Regions from separate parts of the Homo sapiens genome. Here region 2 is linked to region 1. A link means that fine-mapping ties the variant in region 1 to the expression of a gene that starts in the linked region. Tissue or cell type: whole blood. Region 1 holds a variant in brackets; the other region holds the start of a gene. All regions are shown on one strand. Distances are from middle to middle.

What was found. PIP is the estimated chance that this variant, and not a neighbour inherited with it, causes the effect.
Region 2: it holds the start of RUBCN, and the variant in region 1 is fine-mapped to the expression of RUBCN in whole blood (TOPMed, PIP 0.99).

What each region holds. Positions count from the first base shown.
Region 1 is chr3:197,700,101-197,708,207 of GRCh38, reverse strand. It overlaps RUBCN (rubicon autophagy regulator), which reads left to right. Exons shown (of 20, transcript NM_014687.4): 3 at 3,033-3,116; 4 at 3,507-3,666; 5 at 4,554-4,660; 6 at 6,344-6,500; 7 at 7,062-7,595. Among named protein-coding and RNA genes, the nearest start is that of MIR922, 30 kb to the right of the region's middle. The variant C/T (reference allele first, on the strand shown) is at 4,408.
Region 2 is chr3:197,732,420-197,740,526 of GRCh38, reverse strand. It overlaps RUBCN (rubicon autophagy regulator), which reads left to right and starts at 3,623. Exons shown (of 20, transcript NM_014687.4): 1 at 3,623-3,872. The coding sequence starts at 3,808. RefSeq lists silencers at 868-1,000, 3,360-3,909 and enhancers at 3,498-4,345, 5,276-5,325.

The DNA of each region.
Region 1 (8,107 bases):
GCCGAGATTGCACCATTGCACTCCAGCCTGGGTGACAGAGCAAGACTCCGTCTTGGAAAAAAAAAAAATTGTTTACATATTTTTCTTTATTTGCTATCATAAAAAATGCTAAACATTCTTTTTTTATGTAAAGAAATTTATTCATAAAATTTATCCCTCTCTCTGTTCCTTTATGATTTGCACTTTTGTAGCAAGGAAAGACCTGCTGAATCAGAACTTGCATTATTATTATTTTTTTTTTTTTGAGACAGAGTATTGCACTATTGCCCAAGCTGGAGGGCAGTGGCTTGATCTCAGCTCACTGCAACCTTCACTTCCCAGGCTCAAGTGATTCTCCTGCCTCAGCCTCCCGAGTAGCTGGGACTACAGGCATGTGCCCCATGCCCGGCTAATTTTTGTATCTTTAGTAGAGACAGGGTTTCACCATGTTGACCAGGCTGGTCTCGAACTTCTCCTGACTCAGGTGACCCTCCCACCTCAGCCTCCCAAATTGTTGGGATTACAGGCGTGAGCCCCTGTACCCGGCTTGATTTGCACTTCTGCTTTTAAACATTGTAACTTTTATCTGCATAGAAATCCAATATCCTTACTTTTCTTAGTGGATTTGTAGTTTCCTTTTTCCTTTTTAACTCTTCAATACAGGTGGAATTTATTCTGGAATTTATAAAATAAATCATATTTATTTTCTATGATTTGAGGAGAATGCCTAAATTGGTCTACTTCTAGCCAGCCAATTTTCTCAACAATATTTCTTGAATAATCAATTTTTTCCATTTTTTTTCCCAAACAAAAAAGTAGTTTATTTAAGGGTTTAAGTTAGTTTAAAATTTTGTCTGAAGAAAAGAAACCAATTTTACATGCTTTTCTTTTTTTTTGAGACCGGAGTCTCGCTCTGTCACCCAGGCTGGAGTGCAGTGGCGCCATCTCGGCTCATTGCAAGCTCTGCCTCCCGGGTTCATGCCATTCTCCTGCCTCAGCCCCCCGAGTAGCTGGGACTACAGGCGCCCACCACCACGCCCAGCTAATTTTTTTGTATTTTTAGTAGAGACGGGGTTTCACTGTGGTCTTGACCTCCTGACCTCGTGATCTGCCTGCCTCGGCCTCCCAAAGTGCTGGGATTACAGGCGTGAGCCACCGCGCCCGGCCACAATTTTACACGCTTTTCACTTAAAAATGATGTAACCAAGAGACATGCTGGAGTTGATGTCCCACGGCTGCCCAGCCCTGGCTGGCCACTTAAAATCCACTCAACCAGATACCAGAGTCCCTGCCGCACTACCACCAGAATACTGAAGGTCTTCATGATGTTTATTGTCAAAAGAGCCTGCACATCTGACATTTCCGGTTCTCACTTCTACCCTCGCAGTATAGAGGCGAGAAGAAAGACTTTTTACAAAGAAGCACCTCTGACTGTTGAGGTGGTTTTAGATCGTGTATTAAGTTCTGATATATCTTAAGGTCTCTTTCAGGCTATTTATTTTGTACCATTGATTGGTCTTTGTCTCTTTTTTTGTTTGTTTTTTTAAGACAGGATCTCTCTCTGTCATCCAGGCTGGAGTGTAGTAGCACGATCTCGGCTTACTGCAACCTCTGCCTCCTGGGCTCTTGTGATCCTCCCACCTCAGCCTCCCAAGCAGCTGGGACTACAGGCATGTGCCACCACACCTGGCTAACTTTTTGGATTTTTTAGTAGAGATGGGGTCTCGCTATGTTGCCCAGGCTGGTCTCAAACTCTGGGCTCAAGTGATCCGCTCACCTCAGCCCCCCAAAGTGCTGAGATTACAGGCATGAACCATCGTGCCTGGCCTGGTCTGTCTCTTGATACTTGTGCTAGCTCTATATATTTTTAATTATTTAGATTTTAGTTTTAATCCCTACCCAGTAGTCTCAGAAAAGGTTATCGAAAAACAACAATTGGGTTGTTATGGTACAAACATTTTGCATGTTGAGGCCTGTCCCAGCGTGAGACCATTTCATCTGGTCTGGGCATTTCTTTGCCTCCACAGCTCTTCCCTGACCTGGGTGGCGTGGAAAAGTAGATGTTTCCTTATTTGATTTTGCTTTTGCAGTAGGGGCTAAAGACATCCAGCTCTGGCTTTTAACAATAGCTCTTTACCAGTTTTAAGAATTATTTTTTAGAAAACAGAACGGTAGAGAGAAAGGAGTAGAAACCATTATTTTCAGCCGGGTACGGTGGCTCATGCCTGTAATCCCAACACAAGTGACCCAAGGCGGGCAGATCACTTGAGGCTCGGAGTTTGAGACCAGCCTGGCCAACATGGTAAAACCCCATCTCTACTAAAAATACAAAAATTAGCCAGGCGTGATGTCATGTGCCTGTAGTTCTAGCTGTTCGGGAGGCTGAGGCATGAGAATCGCCTCAGCATGGGAGGTGGAGGTTGCAGTGAGCTGGATCACGCCACTGCACTCCAGCCTGGGTGACAGAGTGACTCTGTCTCAAACAAAAAGAAAAAGAAAACATTATTTTTACTGTATACCTTGTATGTCATATGCATATGTTACCTGTTCAAAAGAATGGTTAAAATAATCTTTAACAATTATTCTTTAAAAGGGTAAACATATGTCAAGTGTAGTATTCCTTTTTTTTTTTTAATTCCTTTTCTTTTTTTTTTTTTTTTTTCTGAGTTAGGGTCTCACTCTGTTGCCTGGGCAGGAGTGCAGTGGCACAATCATGGCTCACTGCAGCTTTGACCTCCCAGGTTCAAGTGATTCTCCCACCTCAGCCTCCTGAGTAGCTGGGACTAAGGCATGTCCCACCACTCGGGGTAAGCTTTAAATTGTTTGTAGAGATGGGCCAGTCTACCTGGACTCAAGCAGTCCTCCTGAAGTGCTGGGTTTACAGGTGTGAGCCACCACCCCTGGCCTCTGTGTGTATCCTTTGATTGCTGCTAAGAACCTTTGATGAGGCAAGGGAAGGTTGTGGTCCTTTTCCTATCTTTGAATGCCAACCCTAGAACTAGATCTGGTCCAGAATGGTCGTGATTTGCTCATTGTATGTGTTCCCTTTGCAGGCGTGCCGCCGCCAGACGGATTACTGGCAGTTCGTGAAAGACATCCGGTGGCTCAGTCCCCACTCAGCCCTTCACGTGGAGAAGGTAAGAGTGAGAGCAGAGCGGCTGTGCTGGCAGAGCTGTGGGTCTTCACTGTTTGAGGCTCTGTCAGAAGAATCTTCTAGGCTCCAAGGAGGGAATATGTCCAGTTGCCTATCAGCTGAGGAAAGGAAATTAATTATCCCTGTAGGGACTGACTTTATTTGCTTAAAAAAAAAAAACATGCAAACCCATTGGTCCAGGCCACTTTTTCTCCTCTGGGGAAGGGAAAAAAAGTTTTGCTATTTTCAAAAAAGCCTGCCTACATGGGACCCAGGGTGAAGCCTTTCAAAGCATTTCCCTTACCTGTCTCAATTTAGTTCTCAGGTCATTAGGCCTCAATCTTGCCGTATCTACCAGGATGTGTGTTTTGACTCATGCCCCTTTGCTTCCCAGTTCATCAGCGTGCACGAGAACGACCAGAGCAGTGCTGATGGTGCCAGTGAACGTGCTGTTGCCGAGCTGTGGCTGCAGCACAGCCTGCAGTACCACTGCCTCTCAGCCCAGCTCCGGCCCCTGCTCGGGGATAGACAGTATATCAGAAAATTCTACACAGGTAGGTAGAGGCCACTTAGGACTGTCATCTGTGCTTCCTCGTTGTCACCCACCTCACTATCCTCTACCCCTCTGGTACCAGGGCCTCCTATTTTTCTTTTTTTCTTTGAGATGGACTTACGCTCTTGTCACCCAGGCTGGAGTGCAATGGCGTGATCTCGGCTCACTGCAACCTCCGCCTCCTGGGTTCAAGCAATTCTCCCGGCTCAGCCTCCTGAGTAGCTGGGATTACAGGCATGTGCCACCATGCCCAGCTAATTTTGTAATTTTAGTAGAAATGGGGTTTCTCCATGTTGGTCAGGCAGGTCTCGAACTCCCAACCTCAGGTGATCTGCCCGCTTTGGCCTCCCAAAGTGCTGGGATTACAGGCGTGACTACCGTGCCCGGCAGGGCCTCCTGTTTTTCACTTGATGCCATAGGGATTCTACTCAGAAACATATATCCAGACTTACCTCTCACCTCCCAAGTAAGACACAATCCAGCTTTATGTTAAGGTCGTCCCCTACGGCCACACACACAAACCGTAAGAATAGCCACCATTTACCACGAGTTTCCTGTGTGCCCGTCACTGCTGTCCAGTATCTTCACAGCAGCCCCGAGAGTTGGGCATTGGTGCTACTGTTTCCAATCCACAGGGCTCCAGGAGGTTAGGCGACTTGGCCAAAGTCACTCAGAGCCAGGATTCAAATCTGGATTTTTCTGACGTTGAAGCCTCTTGCCCTGGCCATTTTGCTGCACCTCG[C/T]GTTCTTCAGCTTCTCCTCTACTTTGTTTCTGATCTGCCTTCACCCTCCTCCTCATTCATCCTTACCTCTCCCTTTCTGCTTCCTCAAGCTTCTCTCAAGGCCTCCCTGATGGGCTCTATCACTGTGGCAGCTTTTCTCTCCCCAGATGCTGCCTTCCTGCTAAGTGACGCTCATGTCACGGCCATGCTGCAGTGCCTGGAAGCAGTGGAACAGAACAACCCCCGCCTCCTGGCTCAGATCGATGCGTCCATGGTACAGGGGACAAGGAATTATCCACGTCTATGCTGGGTCCCTGGAGCTCAGCAGGATGTAGCCCTCTACAGCAAACTTTTTCACTTAGCCATTTTTGTGAGCTGAAAGGCTTGCATTTTTTTTTTTTTTTTTTTTTTTTTTTTTTTTTTTGAGACAGAGTCTCGCTCTGTTTCCCAGGCTGGAGTGCAGTGGTGCAATCTCAGCTCACTGCAACCTCTATCTCCTGGGTTCAGGCGATTCTTGTGCCTCAGCCTCCCGAGTAGCTGGGATTACAGGCGCCCGCCACCACACCCAGCTATTTTTTTGTATTTTTAGCAGAGACAGAGTTTCACCATGTTGGCCAGGACGGTCTCGATCTCCTGACCTCGTGATCCTCCCGCCTCGGCCTCCCAAAGTGCTGGGATTAGAGGCCTGAGCCACCGCGCCCGGCCAGCTTTCATTTAAAATGCTTGGAGGAGGGGAGGTACTGTTAAGTACCTATTGAAGTAGAAAGTCTAGGCTTAGGTCGTGTGCTTAGTAGACCTAAGCTGGGGAGTGGGGAGGTAGATTTTGTTAAACCTGTGGTATCTTTTGACAAAGGATACCAAGCCTTGACAAAGATCTGGGGAAAAGAGGGATGGTTTTGAATCGGATAGAGTTTAGTGTCAGACCTGGCATAGCTTAATGTTACACGGGGTCAGTTTTTTCATGTTTTTTTCTTTGATGTAAAGAAAATTTTATAGTACAAAGAAAATTTGTTGCCTAAAATTAACTTATCCCATCACTAATACTCCAGTCAGTGCCTTAGCTAGAATGGAATCAGAGTCCCCACTTCTTAGAGAAGCAGATCCCCTATCTCTCCAGATTCTTTTAATTAATTATTATCATTATTATTATTTTGAGACAGAGTCTTTACTTTGTTGTCCAGGCTGGGCTGGAATGCAGTGGCATGATCTTGGCTCACTGCAGCCTCCGCCTCCCGGGTTCAAGTGATTCTCCTGTCTCAGCCTCCCGAGTAGCTGGGATTACAGGTGCACGCCACCACGCCCAGCTAATTTTTGTATTTTTAGTAGAGACGGGGTTTCACCATGTTGGCCAGGCTGGTCTCGATCTCCTGACCTCAAGTGATTTGCCCGCCTTGGCCTCCCAAAGTGCTGGGATTACAGGTGTGAGGCACTGTGCCCGGCCTGATTCGTTTAATTTTGATTGTTGGTTACTATCCATTTAATACTTTGTATGTGCCAGGCACGGTGCTATGTATGATAAATGTATCATGTCATTGACTCTTCATAACCCTGTGAAGTGGGCATTGATCTCATTTTATAAAGGAGGCTGCTGAGGCACAGAGTAGATACGTGGTCCAAAGTTTGGATCAAATAGCTGATAAGTGTCAGGGCCTGGATTTGAACCCTAGTCTGTCTGACTTCTGATTCCACATACATCAGCACTTTGTTGTGCTGCCTCTGTAATAAAGTACTCCTGGTTTAACACCTGGAAGGATTCCAGTGCAGATGCTGTGGTTTCACAGTTGTAAATTACATACTGTAGTAGAAGGTAGCCTTGCTGTATCTACAGGCTCTGGCTAAAGTCCAGGCCTACTGCAAAGGTAGCTTCTATGGCATTTCTGCAGTACTGCGTTGCCCCCACTCTGAGGCCCTTTGTCCTTAACTCTGACACATTTTTTGGTTTTGTTTTGCTTTTTAGTTTGCCAGAAAGCACGAGAGCCCGCTCCTGGTGACAAAGAGCCAGAGCCTGACAGCCCTGCCCAGTTCCACATACACCCCTCCAAACAGCTATGCTCAGCATTCCTACTTTGGGTCCTTCTCTAGCCTCCACCAATCCGTGCCCAACAATGGCTCAGGTATGGGGACAGGAAAAAGTGGTCATTACATTTATCCCCAGCCCTGGAAAGTAAGAAGACTTTGTGGTTGCTCATAGGCTTGGAAAATTGAGACTTGGGTTGGTAGTTTTTCTTAATAAGGGACATCTTTACAAGTTATATAGTGACTAGCTTGAAATAATTCAGTAGAATCATGAAGTAACAGAAGAGAGAGATGTTTGTAGATTCCCCTGGGTTTCTAATCCACATTGCCAAGAAGGCATTTCAATACTAGCTAACACCGAATGATTGCCAATCATGTACTAGGCTCTGTTGTGTTCAGTTTGTATGTGTTATCCCATTTGAGCCTTCAAACAGTCCTCTTACTGCTCATTTTTCAGATGAGGAATGCATACTAATAAGCAATAAAGCACTGTCTCAGGAGCCCATACTCTTGACTTAGCTGCTTCTAAATAATTTTGTACTTTATTTGGCTTGCCGTTTCTGAGGTGACATCGTATGTCCTGGTCACCCAGTCCTTCATACATACTGCAGGATTCCACCTCACCCTTGCTCCCCTTACCATTTCCTTTTATATTCTAGAGAGAAGATCTACTTCCTTTCCACTCTCTGGCCCTCCCCGGAAACCTCAAGAAAGCAGAGGGCACGTCTCACCAGCAGAGGATCAAACCATCCAAGCCCCCCCAGTTTCAGTCTCTGCACTAGCCAGGGATTCCCCTTTGACCCCAAATGAAATGAGCTCCAGTACTCTGACCAGCCCCATAGAGGCATCCTGGGTCAGCAGCCAGAATGATTCCCCAGGTGATGCCAGTGAGGGGCCTGAGTACCTGGCCATTGGCAACTTGGACCCCCGAGGCCGGACTGCCAGCTGTCAGAGTCACAGCAGCAATGCCGAGAGCAGCAGTTCCAATTTGTTCTCCTCCAGCAGCTCCCAGAAGCCAGATTCTGCTGCCTCTTCCTTAGGGGACCAGGAAGGAGGTGGGGAGAGCCAGCTGTCCAGTGTCCTCCGCAGGTCCAGCTTCTCAGAGGGGCAGACACTCACTGTCACCAGTGGGGCAAAGAAAAGCCACATTCGCTCCCATTCGGATACCAGCATTGCCTCCAGGGGAGCTCCAGGTAATGAGGAACACCGGCTGCTAGTTAGCAAGATGACCCTGAATTGAGAGTAAGAGAGGGCTTGTTATGGGGACTTTTCAGGTGGCAGAAAGAGATGTTCTGTTTCTGGTGATACAACATCTTATTTTGTAATGAAAGAAGTTTATAACGAAATACTGAGACTCAAAATCTCTAAGTCTATTTATGTTTGTTTCTTTATACATTGCTAATATTAAATGTTTTCCTGGATTCTTTACTAGTTTGGTAACATCAGAGGATAGCGTGACTCATAGTGCGAGTTTTCAAAGTATCTCTTGGATTGGGGAAAGTATTATTGAGCTTTAAAAATAATCCCATTAAGTTCTGTCATTTCCTGTGACGTCTTAGAAGTTTGCCCAGGGTGTAATAATACCAATGTGAGAGAGGCAGAGAGATACTGGGGTTTCTAATTAAAACGAAGGCTATAGTGAGTGCAGGGTGATGCGATCCAGCAACTGAGTCGGTGGGGCTGACGGCCGCATCACTGATTCAGG
Region 2 (8,107 bases), 32 kb before region 1:
TCATGTTCAAATTTTGCCAATTATACTACAAAATTTCTTTTTCTTTTTCTTTTTTTTTAAGATGGAGTCTTGCCTTGTTGCCCAGGATGGAGTGCAATGGCATGACCTCAGCTCACTGCAACCTCCGCCTCCCAGGTTAAAGAGATTCTCCTGGCTCAGCCTCCCGAGTAGCTGGGATTACAGGCGTCTGCCACCATTCCCAGCTAATTTTTTGTATTTTGTATTTTCAGTGGATCCATGATCCAGCCTGAGTGACAGAGCGAGACTCCATCTCAAAAGAAAAAAAAACAAAAGAAGGGGTTCAGGATTATGAGGGAAAGTAGAGGGATGGGATAGGTAACGCATGGCTAGTGCAGATTATTGTCATGTTTATTAATGGCTTTAAAGAAAATCCAGTACATGTAACTTGAACTTGGACATATGAGAAAAAGCCTGTTTTCCAGCCTTTTTGCTACAATTTTAGTTTTTGGATTTCTTTTTTTTCTCCCCAAGACAGTCTCACTCTGTCACCCAGGGTGGAGTGCAGTGGTACAATCTCAGCTCACTGCAACCTCTACCTCACGGGTTCAAACGATTCTCATGCCTCAGCCACCCAAGTAGCTGGGATTACAGGCGTGTGCCACTACACCCGACTATTTTTTCTTTGTATTTTTAGTAGAGACAGAGTTTCACTATGTTGGCCAGGCTGGTTTCGAACTCCTGGTGTCAAGTGACCCGCCTGCCTGGGCCTCCCAGTGTTGAGATTACAGGCGTGAGCCACCGCTTCTGGCCCCTAGGATTTCCTGATAAAGCTGATTGCCTTTTTTTTTGAAACGGAGTCTCCCTCTGTCGCCCAGGTCTAGCTCTGTCTTCCAGGCTGGAGTGCAGTGGCGTGATCTCTGCTCACTGCAAGCTCCGCCTCCCGGGTTCATCACGCCATTCTCCTGCCTCAGCCTCCGGAGTAGCTGGGACTACAGGCGCCCGCCACCACGCCCGGCTAATTTTTTGTTGTATTTTTAGTAGAGACGGGGTTTCACCGTGTCAGCCAGGATAGTCTCCATCTCCTGACCTCGTGATCTGCCCGCCTTGACCTCCCAAAGTGCTGGGATTACAGGCATGAGCCACCACGCCCGGCCTTTTTTTTTTTTTCTTTTTTCAGACGAAGTCTTGCTCTTATCGCCCAGGCTGGAGTGCAGTAGCACGATCTCGGCTCACTGCAAGCCCTGCCTCCTGGGTTCAAGCCATTCTCCTGCCTCAGCCTCCTGAGTAGCTGGGATTACAGGCGTCTGCCACCATGCCCGGCTAATTTTTTTGTATTTTTTAGTACGCCTGTAATCCCAGCACTTTGGGAGGCCGAAGCCGGCGGATCACCTGAGGTCGGGAGTTCAAGACCGGCCTGACCAACATGGAGAAACCTTGTCCCTACTAAAAAATACAAAATTAGCCGGGCGTGGTGGCGGATGCCTGTAATCCCAGCTGCTCAGGAGGCTGAGGCAGGAGAATCGCTTGAACCCGATCGCGCCATTGCACTCCAGTCTAGCCAACAAGAGTGAAACTCTGTCTCAAAAATAAATAAATAAATAATATAGTGTTAATTTGGGATTATACTGTATGCCAAAAAATAAAGTTCATACATTTATAGAACTAGAAGTAAGGCCAGGTATGGTGCCTCATGCCTGTAATCCCAATACTTTTTGGGTGACTGAGGCAGGAGGACTGCTTGAGCCCAGGAATTTGAGACCAGCTTAGGCAGCACAGTGAGACCCTGTCTCTACCAAAAATTAAAAAAAAAAAAACAAATTAGCTGGGCATAGTGGCACTGCCTGTGGTCCCAGCTACTTGGGAAGCTGAGGTGAGAGGATCCGCTTGAGGAGGTTGAGGCTGCAGTGAACTGTGGCAGCGCTACTGCACCCCAGCCTGGGTGACAGAGCAAGACTGCGTCTCCAAAAGAGAAGAAAGTCACAGAAGGAAGAGAAATCCCAATGAGTAATATTGCCCCTTTCTTAAAGAAGTATAATCGTTTAGTAGGAAAATGAGAAAGTTTGAAAGAGAGTATTTTTTTAACCTAAATGAAATCATAAATGGCTTCAAGAGGCTCTTTCATTTCATTTTTAATTGCCAAAACACTTTTGTCAAGTTTGAAAATACCTAAAAGCCATATATTATTTTAATATAGAGTCATTAGTTTTTCACGGAGTTATTCTTGATCGCTCTTTCTCCCTCACTTGCCACAGTCAGTCCTTTATAGAGTAGTGCTGATTCTGTTGCCTTCACATTGCTGTAATCTGAGCCTCCTTGTTCTCTTCAACCGCTGCTGTAGTTTAAGCCTGGGTTTGCAAACTAGCAACTCAAGGGCCACCTTCAGCCTACAGACAAGCTGTGTTTGGCCTGTGCAAAGTTGAAAGTTTAAAAAATTTGTTGCCAACGTTTAAAAATTTGGAAGTAGTGCTTAAAAATGCAGATCCTAGCTTCTTTTAAAAAATCAAAATATCATAGCTAGGTGTGGTGGCTCGCACCTGTAGTCCCAGCTATTCAGGAGGCTGAGGAAGGAGGACTGCTTGAGCCCAGGAGTTCCAGGCTGCAGGGAGCTATGATTGCGCCACTGCACCCCAGCCTGGGCGACAGAGAGAGACCCCGTCTTTGAAAAAGAAAAAAGAGAAACCAGAGTATCTGGCAACCCTAGGCCCACGTTTCTTTCAACTGGTTCGCTTCACTTCTTAGCATTACTTGGTTATCCCCCATAAGGATGACCAGTCTCCTATCTAGCCTTCCACCGTTACCTCAATATAGTATTATATCTGCCCCATCTCCTGTCCACATTGTCAAAAGTGGCTTTCTCATCAGATTCGATCAAATCACTTCTTGATTTGCATATGCTTGATTTGCTGATTGTTTTCAGGATAAAATCCAAACTCCTTAAAATGGCATTTCATGATCTGGTTTCCCCACACCAGAATGCCCACACCATGCTGCTGCTCACTCCTTCCCAGCTCTGGCTACCCAGCACCTGCAGTTCCCAAGCCAGCACTTCCTTCCTTGTATCTGCCGTGTTGCTCTCTCCACCTTCTCTTCTTTCTCCTGGCTAACCCGTACTCAGCCTTGAAAACTCTGCGTTGACATCCATCTTCCGAGAGCCCCCAGAAGCCTTTCTCTCCTGCTCTTTTATGATCCCAAAGCAACCTGTGCTCTTGTTTGTGAGCGCTTCATTTAAATGCTCGAGGTCTCCAAACACCACCAGCGGACATTAAGCCAGGGCGGGCTGAGTGGGGTTAATCGTACCGGGATTAGATTAGCGTTATTGCCTAGTCTACATCTCGGACTGAGTTCGGTCCCCAGCGTGTAATGTCACGGGGGTGAATAAGGATACGCCCCGGCACGGATTCCTGAGACCAAGGTCCCCCGCCGCTTGCAAGCCGGCCCAGCCAACCACCGGGTGCGTAGTAATCCACGAGCGCGGCCTGGGATTGGAGGGCGCGGCCTGCGGGAGCGGCCTGGGATTGGAGGGCGCGGCTTGCGGGAGCGGCCTGCCGTTGGAGGGGCGCGGTCTGCGAGCGCGGCCTGGGATTGGAGGACGCGTCCTGCGGGAGCGGCCTAGCCTCGGAGTGCTCGCCGGGGGCTGTAGTCCCCGGAGCCGGAAGTGGGGGTGGCCGGGATAGAAGCCGCAGCCCAGGCGGCGGTCCCTCCCGCTGTCGCCGCCCGGGTGTAGCGCATCACCCGGAGCCCACCGGCCGCAGGTGCCTCCTCCGGCCCCAGGGGGCCCCGGGAGCCCTGAAGGGCGAAGCGGCAGGGACGCCTCTCTTGGGCGAAGAGGCGGCCTCACCGCCCCGGATGCGGCCGGAGGGCGCGGGAATGGAGCTCGGAGGCGGCGAGGAGCGCCTGCCTGAGGAGAGCAGGTGGGCTGGGAGCCGCCGCGGAGTCGGGGCAGCGACAGGCGCCGGAGCCCCGGGAGGCTTGGGAGGGCGCGGGGTCACGGAGAGAAGGGCCGGGCGCGACGAGTCTTGAGGACGACGGCTGCGGAGGACTTGTTTGGGAAGCATTTCGCAGAGGAAGGACGGGCGGGGCGGGGATGGGACGAAGGAACCGGCTTAGGGTGAGGAGGGTGGGTGGGATTTGCGGAGGGCAAGGGCAGCAGAGGAGGGTGAAGCTCAGATCCAAGACTGCTGGAGAGGAGGTGGCAGCTGAGAGACTGGGCGAAGAGGCCAGAGGGGTGCAGTGAGGTTTTACAGGCCAGAGTCTATAGACAGGGGCAGGGCACCACCCGGACTGAAACTTGCCGTGACAGCAAGTGGGGCCAACGCGAAGAGGATGTGAGAATTCCTGGGAGCAGAGGTGAAGCGTTATGAGTGGCCTCGGAAGAAGCTTAGGCAGAGATGAGCATGGGGATGAAGGCGAGGAGAGCCTGGGGAGAAAGTGAGCGAGTGTCATGGCAGTGCGGTGGGGCGGGGACTGCTAATGAGACCAGAAACTCTGCACTTTGTCATTGCCGAATCCCTGTCAGAGAGTGGCAGGACCTCTGTGCCATTTCCTTTTCGTCTTCAAACCTGTCCCTTTTTCCTCACAATGCAAACTAAGCAAGTTCACATTTATTTATATGGAACCATGTCAGAAAGCTCATATCTTCTAGAAATTGGGGGATTTAAAATATAAAAACTACTTTGGACCGGGTGCGGTGCCTCACACCTGTAATTCCAGCACCTTGGGGGAGGCTGAGGCGGGTCGCTTGAGTCCAGGAGTTTGAGACCAGCCTGGGTAACCTAGGGAGATCCCCGTCTCTACAAAAATACAAAAATTAGCTCGGCGTGGTGGTGCTCACCTGTGGTGCCAGCTACTCGGGAGGCTGAGGCGAGAGGATCACTTGAGTCCAATAAGTCGAGGCTGCATTGAGCCGAGATCGCACCACTACACTCCAGCCTGGGTGACAGAGGAAGACCCTGTCTTCAAAAAACAAAAAGCCAAAGAAACCCCGAACTACTTTGACTAAATGATGAATCGGAGTCTGTAGAGATGCCTTCCATATTTAGGGTTTGCTTCATTAATAACTCTGGTCTTAATCTTTTTTAAAGAGGCTGGAATGCTGACAGGCGAGAGCAGGAATGTGGCTTAAGGGAGTCATACTTGACATTTATTATTTTATTTTTATTTTATTTTTTGAGACACAGCCTCACCCTGTCCCCCAGGCTGAGCGCAGTGCCGTGAACACGGCTCACTGCAGCCTCCAACTCTTGGGCTCAAGCGATTATACTAGCTCAGCTTCCCAAGTAGCTGGGGATATAGGTGCCAGCTACCACATCTGGCTACTTTAAAAAACTTTTTTGTAGAGACAGGGTCTCACCATATTGCCCAGGCTGGTCTCTAACTCCTGGGCTCAAGCAATTCTCCCCCGCCACGTCGGCCTCCCAAAGTGCTGGAATTAACAGGTGTGAGCCACCAGGCCTGACCTCACTTGACATTTAGAAACAGTTTCAGATATAATGATGGTCTCAGGAGCAGCTGGGATCCAAAAACTAGAAGCAGAATATTTACCTCTGAGAAAATATCAACAAGGGAAGATTTATGAGATGTTCCTGGGTGAAGACTTGCTATTTTTAAGGGTGACTCTACTTTTATGTGCAAAGTGGCCTGTTGAACAAAACCTGGACTGACAGGACTTTGGGGCTCCTGCCTGAGATCTGAGAATGATTTGTGCTAAGTGAAACTGAACATCTTACTTCCCTTTTCCATGTTTCAGTTTCTGCTTTGCCTATTTGACTATTTATTCTTCCTGCAGATGTCTGTGACGTGCTTCGTGTGAAAGGTCCCATGTAAATTCTAAACACGTTTTAGGATTGTTTTGATTTCCCTCTACCACTTCATGTGAGGGAGGCTGGGTTAGTTATTTTTTTAATGTATGTAACAAATGCTATTTACCACATGCCAGGAATTGTTTTAAGGTATTAAGATATGAATACTGCGTTAACTTCTTTAATCCCTATAACTATTGTATGTGGTCGGTACTACTGTTATTGCTGTGTCACAGATGAGAAAGCTGAGAAATGGACAGGGTAAGTAACTTGCCAAGGTTGTACAGCGAATCCCTGGCAGAACTGGATTCAAACCCAGGCAGTTCGGCACCAGAGTCTGCGCTTTTTTTTTTTTTTCTTTTTTTAGACAGGGTCTCACTATGTTGCCTAGGCTGGTCTCAAACTCCTGGGCTCAAGATATTCTCCAGCCTCGGCCTCTCAAAAGTGCTGAGGTTACAGGCATGAGCGACCATGCCGGCCCAAGAGACTGCACTTTTTTTTTTTTTTTTTTGAGATAGAGTCTTGCTCTGTCGCCAAGGCTGGAGTGCAGTGGCACCGTCTTGCTTCACTACAACCTCTGCCTCCCAGGTTCAAACAATTCTCCTGCCTCAGCCTCCCAAGTAGCTGGGATTACAGGTGCCCGCCACCACGCCCAGCTAATTTTTTGTATTTTTAGTAGAGACGGGGTTTCGCCATGTTGGCCAGGCTGGTCTCAAACTCCTGACCTCAGAGGATCTACCAGCCTCCGCCTCCCAAAGTGCTGGGATTACAAGCGTGAACCACCGTGCCCGGCCCGAGTCTGTACTTTTAATACTCACCCTATGCTGCCTCTCACTATGCTAATAGTAACAACGGAAGTATAAGATAGTGAATAAATTTCACAGCATTCTGTGCCTGTCATTCAGGCCAGTAGGATAGCTCCTTTGCAGAATCTTTTCCCGTCTTTTATTCTTTTTATGATTGCCTCTTAACCAAAAAACTTTAATCAAAACTTAATTTTAGTAGTGGGGTTATCCTCACAAAGTCACTCCCGTCATTGTTATAGGCATACTGTGTTGGCGGCTGATTAATTCAGAATGCGTTGTTTAATGAGGCTTCATGGTACTGATGGCCTCCTTAGCTCCAGATACACAACTGGTAAATACACATTCCTTGTGCCTATTAATTGAGGCTTTGTGACTGGGTTACTGCAAACATAACCTTTCTATGGCCAATGAAATACCCAGTTCAGAAACAGTCTTCTTGATGAGATAGCATCATTTTTATTTATTTATTTATATATTTTAAAGATAGGGTCTCACTGTGTCACTCAGGCTGGAGTACAATAGTGCAATCGTAGCTCACTGCAGCCTCAAACTCCTGGGCTCAGGTGATCTTCCCACCTCAGCCTCCTCAGTAGCTAGGACTACAGGTGTGTGCCACCACTCCCAGCTAATTTTTAATTTTTTCAGATTTTTTGTAGTGACAGAGTCTCACCATGTTGCCTAGGCCAGTCTCAAACTCCTGGCCTCAAGGGATCTTGCTGCCTTGGCCTCCCAGAGCACTGGGATTACAAGCATGAGCCACTGTGCCCAGCCGGTAGTGTCATTTTAAAAATGAAGGATGAAACTTTTCAGTGTATTTTCCTTAAGTAGTTGATATAATGAAACGTGAATAAGCTTTAAAGTCAGACCTGCATTTGAATCCTAGTTCACGGATTAATTTGGCTTAACTTGATCAAGTTACTTTACGTAACCTGCCTGAGTAGGAAGAATAATGCTTTCCTGCCTGAGAAGTTCTGAGGATTCAATAAAACAATGTGCATAAAGCTCCTGAGAGCCTGATACGTAGGAAGTAGGAAAAATGTCGAATCCACCCCTTGCTAGTTTTTTTGAAATAAGGCGAGGGTCTCCCCCACAAGTGACTGTTTGCAAGGGTATCACTTGTTCTTCCTCTTTCAGTGGCTCCTTCATCCGAGTTGAACACATTGGGACCTAGAGTGTTGGCTTAGCTTCCCACTTCCCCGGTAGTGTGCTTAGGTGATGGGCTTCCCTATTGTTTTCCGTCTAGCTATCACTCCAGCCAGATGCTCTGGGGCTTAGGGATGATACTTCACTTTCCCTCCGTTTCCTAAATGCCAGTTATTTTGAGGTTGCCTGGTAAAACTACTACACTACACTGGGCACGGTGGCTCACGCCTGTAATCCCAACACTTTGGGAGGCCAAGGTGGGTGGATCACGAGGTCAGGAGATCGAGACCATCCTGGCTAACACAGTGAAACCCCGTCTCTACTAAAAATACAAAAAATTAGCCAGGCGTGGTGGCAGGCGCCTGTAGTCCCAGCTACTGGGGAGGTTGAGGCAGGAGA